2 separate regions of the Homo sapiens genome follow, and region 2 is linked to region 1. Evidence: fine-mapped expression QTL. Tissue or cell type: whole blood. Region 1 holds a variant in brackets; the other region holds the start of a gene. All regions are shown on one strand. Distances are from middle to middle.

Evidence for each region. PIP is the estimated chance that this variant, and not a neighbour inherited with it, causes the effect.
Region 2: ANXA9 starts here. The variant in region 1 is fine-mapped to the expression of ANXA9 in whole blood (TOPMed, PIP above 0.99).

Annotation. Positions count from the first base shown.
Region 1 is chr1:151,084,087-151,092,346 of GRCh38, forward strand. GABPB2 (GA binding protein transcription factor subunit beta 2) reads left to right here. Exons shown (of 9, transcript NM_144618.3): 2 at 4,104-4,211; 3 at 6,320-6,487. The coding sequence starts at 4,104. Among named protein-coding and RNA genes, the nearest start is that of GABPB2, 17 kb to the left of the region's middle. The variant G/A (reference allele first, on the strand shown) is at 3,965.
Region 2 is chr1:150,979,239-150,987,238 of GRCh38, forward strand. ANXA9 (annexin A9) reads left to right here and starts at 3,054. Exons shown (of 14, transcript NM_003568.3): 1 at 3,054-3,141; 2 at 3,249-3,345; 3 at 3,852-3,942; 4 at 4,100-4,196; 5 at 4,737-4,831; 6 at 5,043-5,156; 7 at 5,348-5,438; 8 at 7,098-7,177; 9 at 7,364-7,423. The coding sequence starts at 3,868. LOC105371438 (a long non-coding RNA gene) reads right to left here and starts at 2,267. Exons shown (of 3, transcript XR_922135.3): 1 at 2,183-2,267; 2 at 1,966-2,075; 3 at 720-848. RefSeq lists an enhancer at 3,578-4,439.

The sequences.
Region 1 (8,260 bases):
GGAAATGGGGCCTTACTGTGTTGCCCGGGGTAGTCGGGTAGTCTCTTACTCCTGGGCTGAAACTGCCCTCCCACTTCTGCCTCCCTAAATGCTGCAATTGCAGGCGTGAGCCACTGTGCCCAGCTGTTTTTTTTTGTTTGTTTGTTTTGTTTTTTGAGACGGAGTTTCACTCTTGTTGCTCAGGCTGGAGTGCAATGGCGGGATCTCGGCTCACCGCAACCTCCCTCCCGGTTCAAGTGATTCTCCTGCCTCAGCCTTCCTGAGTAGCTGGGATTACAGGCATGCGCCACCATGCCCGGCTAATTTTTTTTGTATTTTTAGTAGAGATGGGATTTCTCCATGTTGGTCAGGCTGGTCTCAAACTCCTGACGTCAGATGATCAGCCCGCCTTGACCTCCCAAAGTGCTGGGATTACAGTCATGAGCCACCGCGCCCGGCCCTAGCTGTTTTTTTTTTTTTTTTTTTTGAGACGGAGTCTCACTCTGTCGCCCAGGCTGGAGTGCAGTGGCGCAGTCTCGGCTCACTGCAAGCTCCGCCTCCCAGGTTCATGCCATTCTCCTGCCTCAGCCTCCCGAGTAGCTGGGATTACAGGTACCCGCCACCATGCCCAGCTAATTTTTTGTATCTTTAGTAGAGATGGGATTTCACCAGGTTAGCCAGGATGGTCTCGATCTCCTGACCTTGTGATCCGCCCGCCTCTGCCTCCCAAAGTGTTGGGATTACAGGTGTGAGCCACCGCGCCCAGCCAGCTGTTCATTTTTAAAAAACATACCTGCCATATACCTGAGCCCTTGGTCTATTCATCATTCCTTCATATAAAAGTGATGTTGCAGACTCTGTCTCTACAAAAAATTTAAAAAAAAATTAGCTGGGCATGGTGCCACTTGCCTGTAGTCTCAGCTACTTGGAAGGCTGAGATGGAATTGCTTGAGCCTAAGTGGTCAAATCTGCAGTGAGCTGTGATCACGGCACTGCACTTCAGCCTGGGTGACAGAGCAAGAACCCGTCTCAAAAATAATAAAATAAAATGGCCAGGCGCGGTGGCTCACACCTGTAATCCCAGCACTTTGGGAGGCCGAGGCAGGCAGATCATCTGAGGTCAGGAGTTCGAGACCAGCCTGACCAGCATGGCAAAACCCCTCTCTACTAAAAATAAAAAAATTAGCTGGGCATGGTGATGGGTGCCTGTAATTCCAGATACTTGGGAGGCTGAGGCAGGAGAATCGCTTGTACCTGGGAAGCAGAGGTTGCAGTGATCTGAAATCATGCCATTGCACTCCAGCCTGGGTGATGAGAGCAAAACTCTGTCTCAAAAATAAAATAATAAAATGATGTTCCATGATAAAAGCAGTTATTTATTTTATTTTTTTTTGAGACGGAGTCTCGCTCTGTTGCCCAGGCTGGAGTGCGGTGGCACAATCTCGGCTCACTGCAAGCTCCGCCTCCAGGGTTCACACCATTCTCCTGCCTCAGCCTCCTGAGTAGCTGGGACTACAGGCATCTGCCACCACACCTGGCTAATATATATATATATATTTTGTATTTTTAGTAGAGATGGAGTTTCACCGTGTTAGCCAGGATGGTCTTGATCTCCTGACCTCGTGATCTACCCGCCTGGGCCTCCCAAAGTACTGGGATTATAGGCGTGAGCCACTGCGCCTGGCCAAAAGCAGTTATTTTAGCTTGTAACTTAATCGTGTAGTGCTTTTTCTCAAGAAAACCATCATGTTTCAGTAAGCAGCAGAAGTATTTTATGTCGGATAGGCACAGTGGCTCATGCCTGTAATCCCAACACTTTGGGATTCTATTGCTATGGACAGATCATGCAGAATAGTGGGTACAATATAATTGTCATTTGGGCAAAAAGGTAGAGAAGAGGCTGGGTGTGGTGGCTCACGCCTGTAATCCCAACACTGGTGGGGCCAAGATGGGTCGATTGCTTGAGCCCAGGAGTTTGAGAACAGCCTGAACAATATTGTGAATCCCCATCTCTACAAAAAATACAAAAATTAGCTGGGCATGGTGGTGTGTGCTTGTAGTCCCAGCTACTCGGGAAGCTGAGATGGGAGGATCCCATGAGCCCAGGAGGTCAGGACTGCAGTGAGCTGTGATTGTGCCCACTGCACTCCAGCCTGGGTGACAGAGTGAAACCCTGTCTCAAAAAAAAAAAAGTGCTTTATGTATACTTCCCATTTTGTCACACATAAATTATAAACACATATATTCAGGTGTTGAGATTTAATACAATTAATAATTTTTGCTGTGTCATCCAGGACACTCCTAAGTAGAACTGGCAATTTTCCCTTGAGATTACATGGCAGTGAAGAATACAATAACCAATAGCACAGTTTGATTCATGCTAAGGCACCAGCAGTTATACCCACTGTTGGATTTGCACCGTTAGTGCTAATGTAAACATGGAAAAAGAAAAAAGGCAAATAATGTTTTTGTATTATAACAAAAATAGTTTTGACCTCATAGTTCCCTAAAAAGGCATCAGGGACCACCAGGGGTCCATAAACCATATTTGTTGAGCTACTGGCCTAACGAGATCAGTGTTTAATCAGTGAAAGCTTGTTCTTAATTTTTTTTTTTTTTTGAGTCAAGATCTGGCTCTGTTGCCCAGGCTAGAGTGCAGTGGTGCAATCTCAGCTCACTGCAACCTCCACCTCCTGAGCTCAAGTTTTCCTCCCACTTTAGCCTCCTGAGTAGCTGAGACTATAGGCACGTACCACCATGCCCAGCTAATTTTTGTATTTTTTTGTATATATATTTTTTATTTTTTCGAGATAGTGTCTCGCTCTGTCGCCCAGACTGGAGTGCAGTGGTGCGATCTCAGCTCATTGCAACATCCACCTCCCAGGTTCAAGCAATTGTCCTGCCTCAGCCTCCCAAGTAGCTGGGTCTACAGGCATGTGCCACCACGCCCGGCTAATTTTTGTATTTTTAGTAGAGACAGGGTTTCACTATGTCGGCCAGGCTGGTCTCAAACTCCTGACCTCAGGTGATCTGCCTGCCTTGGCCTCCCAAAGTGCTGGGATTACAGGCGTGAGCCACCGCGCCCAGCCAATTTTTGTATTTTTTGTGAGACGGTTTCGCCATTTTGCCTAGGCTGGTCTCAAACTCGTGAGCTCAAGTAATCCTCCTACTTTGACCTCCCAAAGTGCTGGGATTACAGTCCCAAGCCACTGCACCCCTCTTTGTCTCCTTAAATTTTAAGCATGATTATATGATTACACGATAGTCAGAAGATAAAAACTAGATTAAGATGTAGTTTGGGCCGGGCGCAGTGGCTCACGCCTGTAATCCCAACACTTTGGGAGGCTGAGGTGGGTGGATCACTTGAGGTCAGGAGTTCAAGACCAGCCTGGCCAACATGGTGAAACCCCATCTCTACTAAAAATACAAAAATTAGCCAGGCATGGTGGCGGGTGCCTGTAATCCCAGCTACTCAGGAGGCTTAGGCAGGAGAATTGCTTGAACCCGGGAGGCAGAGGTTGCACTGAGTCAAGATCACACCACTGCTCTCCAGCCTGAGCAATACAGCGAGACTTAGTCTCAAAAAAAAAGAGAGTTACAGTTTTATTTGGAAACCTTGATGTGTCCTGTTTCATTGTGCTATCCAAAGACCTACAAACCTCCAGAGAGAGCAGTTAGTTGCTAATAAGGGCTCTCATAATTTCCATCAAGCAGTAGTTTCACAGATGGGCATCCACCTTGCTCCCTTCCTGGAGATCAAAGTACATACTTTATTATTTTATATTATGTTCCTTAAAATAATATTGTACCCTTCTTCATTTCAGGGGAATGAAATGGTGTTTTATCGATTCCTTAAACTAGAAAGGTCGTAGTGTGTTGCAGATATTTCCAGAGTATTTTTCTGGGGATTGAAAGTGATAGAACTATGTATTAGGGCTTGAAACATTCCCAAATATTTTATTGTTTGTGTTAGACGAGGTAGAAA[G/A]GAAGTGACCTACCAGACAGTCAACTTGAGATGTATCTTATATACATTCAAATATAAGAAGTCTTCTAAAAAATGTATTGGCGGCTTTCCTTATGTTCGAGTTATAGCTACCTGAAAACTTTTGTTCCTATGCATAAAGATGTCTTTGGTGGACTTGGGAAAGAGGTTGCTAGAAGCAGCAAGAAAAGGCCAAGATGATGAAGTGAGAACGTTGATGGCAAATGGCGCCCCATTCACCACAGACTGGGTAAGCTTAGAGGAGAGGTCTCTTAATTATTTCCAATGTATGCTTTTACCAACATTTTTCTTAAAGGCTAACAGACTATTGGTTTTTCTTCACTCCCTTTCTACCTCATATCCCTTACAAGAGTTTTATTTTCTTTGTCTCATCTGAATATGTGGTTTTCTTTTTCTTTTAGTTTTCCAAATTGAGAGTCTCCTGTGGATATATAGGTGATAATTGTAAGGTATTATATACTTGTGATTTTCTATAATGTTTTTTAGAGTATTTTCTAAAGGTTTAACTGTCTCTGGAGTGTACTTGGGTTATAGGCTTCTGTAATTAGCTAGAAATTAAACAAAATCAATATAATAAGAATGCATTCCTAGACTAATAAATTCCTTGTTTCCTTTTCTCTAATATGCCCTGGTTAATAAGAAATTGTCTAGGCTGAGCGTGGTGGCTCACGCCTGTAATCCCAGCACTTTGGGAGTCCAAGGCGGGCGGATCACCTGAGGTCAGGAGTTCGAGACCAGCCTGCTAACATGGTGAAACCCGTTTCTACTAAAAATACAAAAAATTAGCTGGGCATGGTGGCGCACGCCTGTAATCCCAGCTACTTGAGAGGCTGAGGCAGGAGAATCGCGTGAACTCGGGAGGTGGAGGTTGCAGTGAGCGGAGATTGCACCATTGCACTACAGCTTGGAAACTCTGTTTCAAAAAAAAAAAAAGAAGTCATCTAGCTGTTTTGTTTCCTTTACCACTGTTCAAAAAACATTAAAGAGGAAGGTGTAATTTAGCCTCAACCATCTTGGAGACCAAAGACTTTCAGAAGAAACAGGTCCAAGTTATAATGTGGGCTTTCTTAGCAGTCACAGATTTTGTACACATTGCCTAATTTTAACAATTTCAATGAATGAGTGACCTCTATTCTGGACTGATTAATTGAGAGGCCAACAGATTATTAGCATTTCACAAAAAGAAAGAAAAGGAAACCCATGAAATTAGCATTTCTATAAATAGACCTGGAAAGAACAATGTGAATTAAATTCAGTCAGGCAGAGAGGCTAAATATATGAAAAAGCAAAGAATAAACTAAACAGGCTTAAAATAAAGAGCATAACAAAAAGAAGGGAATAGAGCTCTGGCCAAAGTGGATGCTGATAGATAACTCTTACAAGATTTACACTGGGATGACAGACTTACTTATTGCTGTTGATACATCATTGCTAAATTTTTATTGCGTCTTCATCTCATCATTCATTTTGCCCTGCTTTACTGTGGCAAAAAACTTTTCTTCCAGTCAGTCAAATTTGTACCTCAAATTCCACATGTAACTTTCTAGTCTCTACCCTTTTTCTTTTTTAAAATTTACTTTATTTATTTATTTTTTAATTTATTATGAGATAAGGTCTCTCTGTGTTGCCCAGGCTGGTCTTGATCTCTTGGGCTCAAGCAGTCCTCCTGCCTTGACCTCCCAAAGTGCTGGGATTGCAGGCATGAGCCACCACATCCAGCCTGATCCTTTTTTTGTTTGTTTTAACCTTCTAGACGTTGCGTAAAGTCACGTCCTTTAGGGAATCTTAACTGATAAATCCACCTGACATAAAGCCATTATACTTAGTACTTATTCAATTGGTGGTATATTTATTTGTCCATTAGCATGTTAATTTTTTTTTTTTTTTGAGACGGTGTTTCACTCTGTCGCCCAGGCTGGAGTGCAGTGGCACAATCTCAGCTCACTGCAACCTCTGCCTCCCAGGTTCAAAGCAATTCTCCCTGCCTCAGCCTCCTGAGTAGCTGGGATTACAGGTGCCCACCACCACGCCTGGCTAACTTTTTTTGTATTTTTTAGTTGAGACGGGGTTTCACCATGTTGGCCAGAAGAGTCTTGAACTCCTGACCTCAGGTGATCTGCCCACCCTGGCCTCCCAAAGTGCTAGGATTACAGGTGTGAGCCAGTGCACCTGGCCCCTGGCCTTTAATTTGTAAATTTAAGCATTTTTTCAGTTTTATCTGCCCAACCAGATTCTCTCTTGAAGGACAAGAACCATAGCTTGTTCATTTGTATCTCTCCAGTAACGATCTAGGACTCTGCACACAGTGGATATTCAATGAGCATTATTTTTCCACAGCTTGGAACATCACCCCTCCACCTTGCAGCTCAATATGGTCATTATTCCACAGCAGAAGTACTCCTTCGAGCAGGTGTTAGCAGGGATGCCCGGACTAAAGTAGACAGGACCCCCTTGCACATGGCTGCAGCCGATGGACATGCGCACATCGTGGAACTGCTTGTTCGGGTAAAGCAAGAATAGGGGCAAGGTTATGTTGTTAAAAAGGCATCCACTTTCCTGTTTTCTTACTTAAATGGGTACTAGGAAATGACTTGGGAATGATTAAGTTTAGGACAGTTATAGCATTAAGTTGCATCTCCAGGAGTCTTCATGGCAGGCCGGGTGCCTATAATCCCAGCACTTTGGGAGGCCGAGACGGGTGGATCACAAGGTCAGGAATTCGAGACCAGCCAGACCAACATGGTGAAACCCCATCGCTACTGAAAAAAAGCAAAAAAAAATTAGCAGGACGTGGTGGTGCGCGACTGTAATCGCAGCTACTCAGGAAGCTGAGGCAGGAGAATCGCTTGAACCTGGGAGGCGGAGGTTGTGGTGAGGCAAGATCACGCCACTGCACTCCAGCCTGGACAACAGAGCAAGAATCCGTCTCAAAACAAAACAAAACAAAACAAAAAAACAAAAAAACAAAAAAAAAAACCTTCATGGCTATGAGGAGTCTGTTTTCTTATTTATTTTTTGTTTGTTTGTTTGATTTTTGAGAAGGAGTCTTGCTCTTGTGGCCCAGGCTGAAGTGCAGTGGCACGATCTCTGCTCACCACAACCTCTGCCTCCTGGGTTGAAGTGATTCTCCTGCCTCAGCCTCCCGAGTAGCTGGGATTACAGGCGCCCGCCACTACACCCAGCCAATTTTTGTATTTTTAGTAGAGACGGGGTTTCACCATGTTGCCCAGGCTGGTCTCAAACTCCTGACCTCAGGTGATCCACCTGCCTTGGCCTCCCAAAGTGCTTGGATTACAGATGTGAGTCACCGCACCTGACTGTTTTCTAATTTATTAAAACAATTTTTTTTTTTTGAGATGAACTCTCAGCTGGGTGCGGTGGCTCACTCCTGTGTCTCAAAAAAAAAAAAAAAAAAAAAAAAAAAAAGATGAAGTCTCGCACTATCGCCCAGGCTCGAGTGCGGTGGCACAATCTTGGCTCATTGTAACCTTCGCCTCCTGGGTTCAAGCGATTCTCCTACCTCAGCCTCCCAAGTAGCTGTGATTACAGGCGCCCACCACCATGCTCAGCTAATTTTTTTTTGTATTTTTAGTAGAGATGGGGTTTCACTGTGTTGGCCAGGCTGGTCTCAAACTCCTGACCTTGTGATCTGCCTGCCTCGGACTCCCAAAGTGGTGGAATTATAGGTGTGAGCCACCACGCCCGGCCCTAAAACAATTTTTTAAATTTGAGACAGGGTCTCACTCTTTTGTCCTGGCTGGAGAGCAGTGGCATGATCATAGCTCACTGCAGTTTTCAACATCTGGGTTCAAGCAATCCTACTGCCTCAGCCTCCAAAGTAGCTGGGAGGACTACAGGCATGCAGCACCATGCCCAGCTAATTTATTTTTGTTTTTATTTTTTGTAGAGAATAGGGTCTCGTTGTATTGCCCAGCCCAGGCTGGCCTTGCACTCCTGGCCTCAAGCAATTCTCCTGCCTCAGCCTCCCAACACTGACAGGTGTGGGGTTACTGTGCCTAGCCAGTTTTCTAATTTTTTTTTTTTTTTTTTTTTTTTTGAGATGGAGTCTTGCTCTGTCGCCAGGCTGGAGTGCAGTGGCGCAATACTGGCTCACTGCAACCTCTGCCTCCCAGGTTCAAGCGATTCTCCTGCCTCAGCCTCCGGAGTAGCTGGGACTACAGGCGTGCTCCACCACACCCAGCTAATTTTTATATTTTTAGTAGAGATGGGGTTTAACCATGTTGGCCAGGATGGTCTACATCCCTTGACCTCGTGATC
Region 2 (8,000 bases), 100 kb before region 1:
TTCAGAGTTCAGCCTGGCATGCCGGCCAGGAGCCCCTTGGAGAGATTCGGCGTGAGGAAACAGGAGGCCTCACGCTTCCTTCGGTTCTCCCTAAATCTGCTGGGCAGGTAGCCAGAAGAAACTCTGAAGGGTACAGAAAGCCGAGGGCCAGGGGGACCCCGGCTGCGGAGCTGCAGTACCGTGTTTACCCAGCCTAACTGCGGTCACCCAGTCTCCTGCATGTGTCTGAGGTCAGCCTCGGGGGCTCCCCTGAGTAGGTATCTACCTGAGGCTCTTCCCCTGATGCTACCTGCATACCAATTCCACCCAGGAACCTGGCGTCCTCAGGAGGCTGCACTTCCCAAGTGGGCTGAGACAGCCCCTTAATATGTGGGGCTGGAGCCAGAGACCTCAAGGGGCCACTAGGGGGCTCGAGACTCTCAGTGGCTGCTGACGCCCTCTTGTGGCCATTTTGGGGATTGGCCAGAAAAGTTTCAGAAGCGAGCCAAGATCGGAATTCTTAAGGAGGTAAGTAATAACAACAGTAACAGTTACCATATAACAATACTTATCGTTATATATTTGATAACATTGTGACATTTCTACTTAACAGCGCTGTGCCCAGAACTCTTCTAAGTGCTTTATATGCACTGTAGTTATTTAATTCTCACAACAACCTATAACATAAACACTATTACTTGTCTGTTGATGATGAGGAAACTGAGCACAGAATAGTTGCCCAAGGTCACACAGAAGACCAGAATCCCGACTCTGAGAAGTCTGGCTCCAGAAGCTTTGCTTTTAGCCACCACGCTGAGACTGAGTTCCATTTTGGGGTTGTCAGGTGAAATACAGGACACACTGTTAAACTATAATTTCAGATAAACAAAAAATAATAATTACAGGCGGTGGCTCACGCCTGTAATCCCAGCACTTTGGGAGTCCAAGGCAGGTGGATCACGAGGTCAGGAGTTCGAGACCAGCCTGGCCAACATGGTGAAACCCTATCTCTACTAAGAATACAAAAAATTAGCCAGGCATGATGGCAGGCGCCTATAATCCCAGCTACTCGGGAGGCGGAGGCAGGAGAATCGCTTGAACCCGGGAGGTGGAGCTTGCAGTGAGCCAACATAATGCCACTGCACTCCAGCCTGGGCAACAGAGAGAGACTCCGCCTCAAAAAAAAAAATGTTAGTATATTTAATGAAATATTTGGGTCATACTTGTACCAACAAATGATTCCTCATTTACGTGAAATTCTGATTAAGCTGCATGTCCTGTATATTTATTTATTTAATCTAATACCCCTACTTTACAGGGCACTTTTCTCTGCCACATGCAATTACACAGATTACTTTTTTTTTTTTTTTTTTTTTTTGAGACGGAGTCTCACTCTGTCGCCCAGGCTGTGGAGTGCAGTGGCGCCATCTCAGCTCACTGCAACCTCTGCCTCCCAGGTTCAAGTGATTCTCCTGCCTCAGCCTCCCGAGTAGCTGGGATTACAGGCATGCGCCGCCATGCCCGGCTAATTTTTTGTATTTTTAGTAGAGACGGGGTTTCACTGTGTAAGCCAAGGCTGGTCTCGATCTCCTGCCTCATGATCCACCCGCCTCGGCCTCACAAAGTGCTGGGATTACAGGCATGAGCCACCGTGCCTGGCCACATTACCTTATTTATTTATTTATTTATTTATTTATTTTTATGAGTTCAATAGTTTTTGGGGACAAGGTGGTGTTTGGTTACATGGATAAGTTCTTTAGTGGACACATTACTTCATTTAATCATCCCAGGAAACCTGTCCTCGGAGGCCCCAGCATGTCCCACAGCCTCCGTCTCTCTCAATCCTCCCATTTAGAGAGCTGAAAGGACTAGCGAAGCTTACAGAACATAGGTGGCAGAGCTGGATATTGAACCCTCATTCTCCAGTTCTGACACAGGTGCATGTTTTCCTTTTAACAGGAGAGAAAAGTGAGGAGCAGTGATTACCGCCACAGAAATATCCTTTCATGGCGTGTCCTCCGGCATGGTCTACTCAGTGTGGTGGAGCCACTGCAGGTCCCTCCTCCAGGGATGTAGGAATGCCAGTGAAGGCCTTCCTGAGTTGGGAGAGAGGCAGAGGAGTGAGTGGAGGCAGGGCTGTAGCTTCTGTGCCCCGCCCCTACCCAGGCTCTCCAGGGAGGCAGGAAAGAGGCTGTGTTTAGACCTGAGGGAGCCAGCTGTGAGGCTGGAGCAGTTGCTGCATGGCGGGGCGGGGGCTCCACAGGGCTGTTCACCTGCTGCTCTGTGCAGAGACAGCCTCAAGTCCAGCTGCTGGGGTTGCATCACCTGCAGCTAAAACAGCCACAGGGCCCAGGCTGCCAAAAGGCAACAGAAGCAATCTAAGAAACCAGGCAAGGGAGCCTCCCCCATCTCCCTGTTGCCTTTTGGGAGCATAGAGCTTCCCTCTGAAGGTAACACCCTTTGCATTTTTCTCTCTTGACTCTGTTCATCAACTTCCACTCCCAAATACTTGTGCCCTTCCTTCTCCACAGATATACACAATCCCTGGGCACTCTCCACCTAGGTCAGCTGGCTCTAGTAAGGCAGCAGTCAAGGGAGTTTCTGGGCTGGGACCCCCTCTGGGGTGCAGGCTGGGGTGCCCTGCTGGTATGTGCCCCAACAGGTTTTTCCCTATCAGCCTTGAAATCAGCCTGCAGCCTGTCTGACCTGCCCCCCAGGGAGCTGGAGCCAGAGGCAGAGCCAGGTCAGAAGCTGGGGCAGAGCCAGGTCAGAAGCTGGACTTTGAGACTAGGTCTCTGTGGTCCCACCTGGACCCACAGGGAAGGCAGTGCATAAAAGCCTCCTGTGTTTGAGGCTGAGCCGCTGAGAGGCTGAGTGGAGTTCACTCACATGGATTGAGGCCCAGTTCCTGGGAGAAGAGATGCTGGGCAGGAAGGTGTCTGCATGTGGGACTCTGTACAGCCCGGTCCTCTCCCACGTCTGGGAGGGGCCAGAGTCAGACAACTGCTGGGTTCGTCCCTAAGAGAGGTCATCTGACTGGCTGTTCAGCCTAGGCTGCACACACCCCCACTTTCCTCTACCAGGCCACACCGGAGGCAGTGCTCACACAGGCAAGCTACCAGGCCACAACAACGACACCCACCTCACCTCTGGCACCTCTGAGTAAGTACTGGGCCCACGGCCCCATGCCAGGAGGGCTTGTTGATTGCTTGGGGGAGGGAAAAATGAGTTTTCCTTTTCCAACATGAGAGTGCCTCCTTTCTGTCCAGGCATCCACGTACTTGCAAGAACTCTTGCTCACATCAGCTAAGAGATTGCACCTGCTGACCTAGAGATTCCGGCCTGTGCTCCTGTGCTGCTGAGCAGGTAGGCAGCTGTACAGGCAGGAATTGAGGGTTGCTTGTCAGCTGGGGCTGCCGGTGGGGGAAGATGCTATTTCGAGTTGTCTTCCACTCTGCGTGGTTAATCCTGCCACCTCACCTCAGCTCCCCTGCACTGCCCAGGAGACCCCAGCCAGGCCCAGGAAGGAGGGCCATAGACCTCAGAAGGGAGGCATCTACCGCGGACCAAGGCCTGAGGAGCTTTGGTGCTGACCCTGGCATCAGGGAGGGTTGGCGCCTGGTCCAGGAGCATTCCGCATCAATCCCCACTTCCTAAAGGAGTGGGGAGAGGTGGGGAAGGTGGGGGCTCCCCTCTTACCTCACCATTTCAGCTCCATTTCTGGCTCCAAGCCTAAGCAGGTTGATCTTTTTTTCTGCAGCAAGGAAAGGAACAGGTGACTGGAACCCAGGGTCCAGGGTCTCGGGGGGGTCATAAGGAGTCCCTGAAGGGCCAGGAAATTCAGCTCTGTGGGCTCCTGTTTCCTTCCCCAGGGCAACCAGTAGCACCATGTCTGTGACTGGCGGGAAGATGGCACCGTCCCTCACCCAGGAGATCCTCAGCCACCTGGGCCTGGCCAGCAAGGTAGGGGCTGTTGGGATTTTAGAGATCACTTTTAGTATCTCAGCTCGGGCTGTGAGAGGATGGGAGGCAGGAAAGTGGAGGACAGGCCCTGAGGTTATGCTGAGGAGGTGTAGGCAGCCTGGCCCTGGCCCTTGCCAACTACCCTGTGCTCCCACAGACTGCAGCGTGGGGGACCCTGGGCACCCTCAGGACCTTCTTGAACTTCAGCGTGGACAAGGATGCGCAGAGGCTACTGAGGGCCATTACTGGCCAAGGTGAGCCCCTTTCCCCCGGCACTTGAGACTGCCTTTTAGAGCCAATCTGTAGACCAAGGAGGAGCCAGGAAGGAGGAACTAGTGATGTTGGAGAAATGTTTGTGGAATGCCTTCATTCTTGTATGTCAGGCGCCACAGTAGGTGTGTCAAACCCATTCTCACAACACCCCTGTGAGGCAAGGCTTATTATTTCCATTTTCCAGATGAGGAAACTGGGGCTCAGGGAGATTAAGAGGCTTGCCCAAGGTCACTCAGCTCATGACGGAGGTGGTATTCTCATCTAGGTCAGCCGATCCCCCCAAGTCGTATTTTTTTTTAACCACCACACCAGGCCACCTTTGCCTTGGTCTGGGTCAGATTTGCATGCTGTTTTGACATTTTATTTGCAACTTCTTTTGAGATAAAATGGAAGTGGGGGTGATATAGCCCCTGCTCCTTTCCTTCCCAGCCCTCTCCTGGAGCGCCTTCCCTCCTCCAAGGAGTAGGAACATCCCACTATGTAAAGACCCTGCTCACAGCACAGCCCTCATCTCGGTTCAGGCGTGGACCGCAGTGCCATTGTGGACGTGCTGACCAACCGGAGCAGAGAGCAAAGGCAGCTCATCTCACGAAACTTCCAGGAGCGCACCCAACAGGTGAGGCCATGCTGACCTCCCACAGCAGTGGACTGGGGTGAGAAACCCCCTGGAGGACTCGAGAGACAGCAACAGCCGCTGAGGCCAGCCCCTGCTTCCTGGCTAAACAGGGCCTGAGATGAAAACCAGCCAAATCTTCCCAAACCTCCCCACACTTCTGGGGCCCTTCCCCTCACCCCCGTCCCTCTGCTGTGAGGACCATTTATTGTAGGACCTGATGAAGTCTCTACAGGCAGCACTTTCCGGCAACCTGGAGAGGATTGTGATGGCTCTGCTGCAGCCCACAGCCCAGTTTGACGCCCAGGAATTGAGGACAGCTCTGAAGGTAGCAGGAGGGGAGACTTGCTGGGGTGTCTGGGGAAGGGAGAAGGCTGTCAGCCTTGCTTTTGCAAGACGAGAGTCCCCCTCTCGTCGTCCCATATTGTTTCTTAGAAGGAGAAGCAGCCAGCGTCTGCCCCTCTGTCTGCCATCCTAATGACACGGCCAGTCTGAGAGTAGACTCCCAATTTCTTGTAGGCCTCAGATTCTGCTGTGGACGTGGCCATTGAAATTCTTGCCACTCGAACCCCACCCCAGCTGCAGGAGTGCCTGGCAGTCTACAAACACAGTAAGAATATAGAGGGAGGGGTCCCAGATGCTGGAGAAGGGGCTGTAGGACAGGCCACTCCTCTCCTGTACTCCCCATAGGTGAGCTATCTGGCAACCTGGCTGCCTAAGTTCTATTCCCTTGGGGTCTTTCCTCTTGCCCCCACCAGTGCCTCAGTCTCTCAGGGGAGAGACCCAGATGTGATCATTAAAAAAAGAGAAGCAGGCCAGGTACGGTGACTCATGCCTGTCACCCCAACACTTTGGGAGGCTGAGGTGGGCAGGTCACTTGAGCCCAGGAGTTCAAGACCAGTCACAGGCAATAAAGGAAAACCTCATCTGTGCTAAAAATTCAAAAAAACCAGCTGGTCATGGTGGTGTGCGCCTGTGGTCCCAGCTACTCAGGAGTTTGAGGTGGGAGGATCACCCCAGCTTGGGAAGTTGAGGCTGCAGTGAGCTGAGATCGTGCCACTGCCACTGCACACCAGCCTGGGTGACAGGAGTGAGAGCATGTCTCTCTCTCTCTCTCTCTCTCTCACACACACACACACACACACACACACACAAATAAAGAGAGAGAAGCAATGATTAACCATCTTAATCTGGAGCTCCAAGGCAGATTCCAAAGTGACAGTCCCAAAGGTACTCATGTCACCTTCCCAGCCCCTTGCCATCCCTGCCATCACACCACATTCCAAGCTGAACCCAGCCATGCTGCAGCCTGAGGAAAAGGTGGGAATCTGCCCTCTGAGTCATGGGTGTCACCTTTCATGTCCCTGATGGCTGGCCTTGCTTGGCTACAAGTGTCTCACCCACTAATTTGTGGCTTTTTCCCATCCTCATCTTACCACCCCTTCCCCCCACCCCTACCTCTTTTTCTTGCTTTCCCCAATTTTCCTTTGATGTCTAATCTTGGCCTATGTTCTTCTTTTGAGACAAGGTCTTGCCCTGTAGCCTAGGCTGTGCAGTGATGTCATCATGGCTCACTGCAGCCTTGACCCTTCTGGGCTCAATCAGTCCTCCCACCTCAGCCTCCTAAGTAGCTGGGACTACAGGTGTGCCACCACCATGCCCAGCTAAATTTTGTATTTTTTGTAGAGATGGGGTTTCGCTGTGTTGTCCAGGCTGGTCTCGAACTTCTGGGCTCAAGCCATCTCCTGCCTCAGCCTCTGAAAGTGCTGGGATTACAAGCATGAGCCACCGCCCTGGCCGTGGCCTATGTTCTTAATCCCTCTCCTACCTTCCTTCCTTCTTGCATCTGTTTCCCTTTTCTCTTTCTTTTTCTCCCTTTCCTGCTCTTTTCCTTCCTCATATCCCACCTCTCATATCATTTTTCCTTACCTCCAATGAGGGTGCCAGGTCCTAACCATCTTGTGTTATAATACGGGTTTCCCTAGCTCTTCTTCACTGCCTGGCCCCAACTCTAATAATGGTTGCCTCCTGCCCAGCAGGTTGGTGCTTGGTGATGAAGCCACTGCACACCTCACAACTTAGAGATGTTTTTAGAGTGGCCGTGATGGTACTTGTGCCTTACATCCTGGGAATTAGCAGCCATCAAGCTACTCCAAGCAGGGGCTAGCAGGGCTGGCAGGGTATAGCGGGTCAGGCATTTGGCAGGTCCTGGGGATATCTACACTAGGAAAACTCAGGAGGATTCAGAGAGCTCCTCACCCCACCCCAGATTTCCAGGTGGAGGCTGTGGATGACATCACATCTGAGACCAGTGGCATCTTGCAGGACCTGCTGTTGGCCCTGGCCAAGGTGAGGAGGACTGACCTGCAAGGAAGGGAGTCACGTTCACCAGGCAAGGAGACACGCTGGAGCAGGGAGCATTGCTGTCCTGTAATGGACAAGAGAGGGCTTTAGGGGAGACCAGCCTTCGCTTGTTGGTCTGAAGATAAAAAGGTGCCCTTCAAAGAGCCCTCTAAGAACAGTTTCTCCTCCTAGGGGGGCCGTGACAGCTACTCTGGAATCATTGACTATAATCTGGCAGAACAAGATGTCCAGGTGAGCAGGGGGTTTAGGAGTGTGCACAGCCGCCATGCACATAAGATGCCTTCCTCCACCATATCTTAGAGCCGGTGACCTACGTGCCCATTTTTCCCGCAAACCCATCCCTGCCTTGGAGAGGGAGTTCTCAGTTATGTGGTAGGGGCAGGAGGTGTCAGGTAGCGTCATAGCTGAAGCCTTTTCACTCATCTAGCCTCTGACTCCTGAGCTCATCAACTGACATATTCTCCTCTCATGAGCGTTTGGGGGCAGAAAGCCTCCTCAGACCTTTTGGGGATTATTTAATCCTCGGGTACCAGGATTTTTCCAAATCAGTGAATAGAGCTGTGAGGCTGTAAGGGCAGAGCCCTCTCTTAGCCCTATTTCTTTCTTAAAAAATAAAAAACATAAGATAAAAAAACATAAATAAAAACAACTAGTAGGCCAGGCATGGTGGCTTATACCTGTAATCCCAGCACTTTGGGAGGCTGAAACAAGAGGATCACTTGAGCCCAGGAGTCCAAGACCAGCCTAGGCAACATAGTGAGACTCTATCTCCACAAAATATTTTTAAAAATTAGCTGCACCTGTAGTT